Regions from separate parts of the Homo sapiens genome. Here region 1 is linked to region 2. Evidence: fine-mapped expression QTL. A gene starts in region 2. The other region holds a variant in brackets. All regions are shown on one strand. Distances are between the middles of the regions.

Region 1 (2,500 bases), 20 kb before region 2:
TCTATTAATAAACCTCAGCTGAGATCCTTGTGACCCCCCTCTTCCGGATGTGATCCTCGCTGCCTTGCCTTATCAGCCTTGCTTTTCACAAGCTCTTAAATTCATGAGAAAAGGGAAAAAGTGAAATCAGATAGAAATGCAGGTCTGTTTGCTGTTTTCTCCAATGAAATGGTTCTGGGTAAACAGCAGACGCCTTTGATGAAATCCCAGCAGGCTTAAACAATAAAGCTGGTTACAAACTCAATCTGGCGGAGATATCAGATCTGAAATTGTTTCAAAAAACATGTCAACATTTTCTAATGCTCCTAAAAAAAACCTTCCTGGGCTGCCCACTGTGGAGTCTGGGTCTCGGAGACAGGACGGGGGCCACCCCAGCCTCTGCCCAGGCCAGCTGGGACTCTGTGCACAAAGAACCCAGGAGCAGGCTATTCCTGGTTGCTGGGGGCCCTGCCAGCTGCAGATGTGTAAATGGCCACTTCAGTCATAACCCAAGCCAGGCAGGGGACCAGCCACCCTTGTGTACACCACTGCACCATCCCCCGCAACCAACCTGGCCTCCCCGCCTTCCCCCTTAACTATCTTCCATTCTCCACACTGCAGCCAGCAGAGGCTTTTAAAAATGTAAATCAGATCATGTCATTCCTTTGCTTAAAACCTCTAATGCATTCACACTGCACTTAGAACAAAATCCAAACTCCTCCGTGGCCCACGAGACCTTCAGGGATCTGCCGCTCACTACCTGCTTCTTCACTCACGACAATCAACCTCACTGGCCTTCCTCGCAAATTATTTCCTGCCTCTGGGCCTTTGCACTTCCTACAGACTTTGTCTGGGATGCTTTTTCCCCAACCCATCGTCCTCAGCCAGCTCCAGGACCAGCCCAGCTGATGTGGCTCCTCTCCCGGCCAAGTACAATATCACATTAACAGTTTTATTCTCTACACTGAGTCCAACCACGATCTGAAATCATCGCATGTGTTTACTTATTAACTGTCGCTCTCTGGAATGCGATCCCTCTGCAGGTCTGAACTTGTCTGTCTGGTAGTCGACAAGTATGACTGGCCCATAGTAGGTGCTCAATCATAAACCACTGCATGAATGAGCAGTGAGGATGTCACCGTCCCCTCTAGGTATTCCCCAGGCAATGCCCAGGAAATCGGGAGCACCACCAGCACACTAAGGTATCCTACTCCAAGGTACAGGAACACCTCGCCAGCCTCCCTCTAGGGC[A/C]CCCCTAGCTGCCCCTGCCCCACCCAGGCCTCATCCAAGCCCCTGCTGGCTTTAAACCACTAGGACTCGGAGGTCAGGCCTGAGCCGGGGCTGGGAGGTCCCCGCCCCCTTCACAGCCCTCCTACTCGGGCCTGCATCCCCGCAGACCCCCGACCCCAGCTGACGCCCTCTGAGAAGGGAGGTGACAAGGGCAGGCCGGCAGGGGCCGGCGCGCTCCTCGCAGGCCTTCTGGGGAAAGCGTGGGCGCAGGTGCCTTCGGTTGGGCTCCTGGGTCTGGGGCCTGGGGGCGGGCAGCGATGTCCCCCTCAGGGTGCCGGGCGCCCCACCCCCACCCCCGCCTCCGCCCCAGGCCGCGATCGATCCCGGCCTCTCCCGGCCTCATTACCGAGGGAGAGCTGCCGGGGCTGGCAGGGGAGCCAGACGGCGGCGGAGGGGGCGGGGAGGCCTCCTTGGCTCCCTGGCCCGGATTAAATATTTACTATGTTTTGTTTGGCCTTTGGGGGAGGGGCGGGGAGGGCTGTCGCATTGATCCGGAGCTGCAGGGCGAGGGCGGTGCCCAGACCCGGCGCCCCAAGGCCTCCCGCAGGCCGACCCGAGCCGAGCGCGCCCTTTGGGCACCGGCCCCGCCCGGGAGGGTCTTCTCGCTCTAGAGCCGGGGGCCCGCGCTGAGAGATCGGGGTTACCGCGCGGGGAGCCGCGGCCGCGCTGGGATCCGTTCCCTCTCGCGGGAGCCGCCGGCCGGGGATCTGCGCACCCCACGCGCCCCGCTCGGGTCGGGCCTCCCCTCCCCGCGGCTGCCCCCGGGCCGGCCACCGCTGCCCAGCGCGCAGGTCCCTGCCGGATCCCCGGCGGCTTTCCTGCCCCCACTTTACAGACGTGAACGCTGAGGCGGAGGGTGGGGGACGTGGGGCCGGCTCGCCTCCTCCTGGGCTCGCCGGGATGTGGCCTCCGAGGTCGCCGCGGCGCTTTCCTGCCCAAGCTGGCGCTGCCGGAGCGCCCGGGCCCCGCTCCCCTCACGGGCCTCGCAGCACAGACGGGGACAGGGGCGGCCTCGCGCGCACGGGGACCCCGGGGTGGGGGTGGGGGTGGGGCTCTGCGAGGGCCCTAAAAACGCTGGGGACGCGGGTTTGACGCACTTTCCCGGCAGCCGAAGACGACCCCGGAGCCCCTTTATTCTCTACGCGCTCATCCCACGCGCAGAACAGACACAGGCCCTGCCCTCACCGAGGGTTCCAGTCGGCTGTGCACAACTGAAGAGCTGCTCCCCCTT
Region 2 (2,500 bases):
ACTTGGGAGGCTGAGGCAGGAGAATCACTTGAACCCAGGAGGCAGAATTTGCAGTGAGCCAAGATCACACCACTGCACTCCAGCCTGGGTGACACAGCAAGACTCCATCTCAAAAACAAAAACAAAAAACAAAAAAAAACTTTGAAAGACCATTGATCTAGTCATATTACAGATGGGTAAACTGAGGCCCAGAGATGAGGAGACATGTCTGGGGTTCTACTGAGTCCGCCCCAGAGCTGACCGAACACAGCCCCAGGGTGCCAGCTCCGTTGGTCTTTCCACAGCCCCACAGTTCCTGGAAAGGAAAGGGCCGTGACAAGGGCAAAGCCAGGGTTGCATACAGGGCTGCGGTGAGAGACGGAGTCTGGCAGCGTGTGATGAGAGACAGAGAGACGCAGCGTGTGGCATGCGGCACATGCCAGCGACAGGCGGCAGCAGGCGGGCAGGCGGGAGGCCGGGCTGCAGCGCCAGAGCATAGCCATTGTCCCCAGCGTCCGGCCTGCCCAGGTGCCCCTCACTGGCCATCAAGTGACCTCCCTCGGCCCTGCCTCCCCTGAGGCTGGCCAGCTGTAGACCCCAGGCCCACCTCCACACGTGCTCCTTCCTTCTCCCAGCTTGCTCAGACAAGCCCATGAATAGAACATTAAAGGCAAAACCTTCTAAAAGGAAAAGCAGCTCCCTGGTAGGAGTCACCCCACTAAATGTCAAATGCAGAGCAAGGCTTCTTGCCTTGTGCGCTTCTCACTCATGGAGTCACCTTAGCCTCCATATCCCCATCATCCTATCGCCGTATAAATAAATCATGGTCAGAAGAATGCCAATTTCCCCCCAGGGCCTCATGAATCTCTCAACATAAGCATATGTAAAGGCCCCCTTCACTGCGTGCTGGTCCTGGTGCCCAGAAAGAGATAGCAAATCCTGTGGGGATGATTTTGGAGGCAGAAGCAAACTTTCTACCACCTCAGTGGGCTGAAAGTTGGGAGCCCAGCTTTTGTCCTGATTTGGGAAAGACCCTTGCTCACGTAGTTGTCACCATGATGCCACTACCCTCTGGAATCAACTCAGTGAGCTGCCAAGTGGCCCATCGCTGGGGGCTGCAGTGGTCTGTCCCCTGGCAGACATGTCACGAGTCGTGCCCACCCACCCCCTGTGAGGGCGAGCCACACACCCACTCAGCAAGTGTTGTTCCTGACATGTGGCACACACAGCGCTGGCCTGCCCACTCCTGGGAGCCCCTGCCCCCACTGACTGGCTCACCATCGTGCCACGGCACCGAGCCCTGCCAGTGGACCAATGGTGTGGGTGCCAGCAGAGGCTCTGGTGCACTAGGGTGTCCTGCTCTGCAACAGTGACCTCTGCCACACACACTACAGGGAGCCTGTTGCATGCTTTGCCAGGTGTGTTTCTGTACATACACACACACACACACACACACACGCACACACACTATGGTACCAACTCTTTTGCTGTGCCAGCACAGAGGTCTCCAGAGCGACTCTCCTGAATCAGATAGCAGGGGCTGTTTGCAGTTTCGTTTCCACGCTTCGCTGACTGGTTAGACAGTGATCACAGGTTCGGAAGCACGAGCCTCACCACAGCGGAGGAGGCCTCCACTCTGAAGCGGGATTCCACGCTCCTGCACCCTAAGATCAGCTAGACTCTCTGCCTTGTTTCATCTTCTTTCTTTTCCTAAAGAATCACGGGGAGAACTGACCTCTCTGGGACTCAACCGTGGCTGGAAGGGGACAGGAGAAGCCCTTTCTGGAGGACAGCTGAGCCCTGCAGCTGCCATCCTGCCTGGCAGGCTAGGGCTGGGCTGCGGGAAGGCCCCCCAGGAGGTAGGGAGCACTACAAGGCAAGAGGGGCAGGTATAGGTGGTGGAGCCAGTGTGTTCCGGGGCTGTGCTAGCAAGTCCATCAGGTCACCCTGGAGGGAAGCCAGGGAGAGCAAACCATGGGGAGGGCTGAGATCCCAAGCAGAGCACAGCCCCCCAATAATCCATGGCCCTGGGCCCTCCTCAGGGGCGTGAAAGCAGGCAGGAGGGTTCCTGGCCCACTGTCCCATCTCTGTCCCCAAGGAAGAAACCAGGGCAGGAGACAGAGGTGAGGACTGTGTCTTCCAGACACCGGGGGAGAGGGAGTAGGAGAGGACATATGAGACAGCAGCTCAGGCCCCAGGAGTCCCAGATCCCAGCCAGAGAGGCTCCTGAGGAACCGCAGAGGGGAGTGCATAGGAACCACCAGCAAGCTCTGCGAGAAGCCAGAAATGAATCAGCAGCGCCCAGCGCCCCACAAAACAAATGTCAGAGAAATCAAGACAGATGGGCACGTGAGACAGTGGAGCACAGAGGTCCAGAGGGCAAGGGAGACGGTGGGCTTGACAGACAGAGCGGGGGCTGCATCCTGACTCAGCAGTGCGCCGGCTGGGTGGCCCAGGGAAAGGGACTCCAGCTAGCTATGCCTCAGTTTCCTCATCTGACACGGAGGAATGAGCACAGACG

Direction of the effects. Alleles are on the strand shown, and positions count from the first base shown. SD is a standard deviation of normalised expression in the study named.
For the expression in anterior cingulate cortex of the gene that starts at base 1,447 in region 2, allele A in region 1 goes with a higher level than allele C (moderate effect, 0.42 SD a copy in GTEx).

Evidence for each region. PIP is the estimated chance that this variant, and not a neighbour inherited with it, causes the effect.
Region 1: its variant is fine-mapped to the expression of RTN4RL1-AS1 in anterior cingulate cortex (GTEx, PIP 0.99).

Annotation. Positions count from the first base shown.
Region 1 is chr17:1,996,477-1,998,976 of GRCh38, forward strand. The region is part of intron 1 of RTN4RL1 (reticulon 4 receptor like 1); the gene reads right to left. Among named protein-coding and RNA genes, the nearest start is that of RTN4RL1-AS1, 20 kb to the right of the region's middle. The variant A/C (reference allele first, on the strand shown) is at 1,231.
Region 2 is chr17:2,016,270-2,018,769 of GRCh38, forward strand. It overlaps RTN4RL1-AS1 (RTN4RL1 antisense RNA 1), which reads left to right and starts at 1,447. Exons shown (of 2, transcript NR_135642.1): 1 at 1,447-1,838. The region is part of intron 1 of RTN4RL1 (reticulon 4 receptor like 1); the gene reads right to left. The region is part of intron 1 of LOC105371486 (a long non-coding RNA gene); the gene reads right to left. RefSeq lists an enhancer at 2,044-2,153.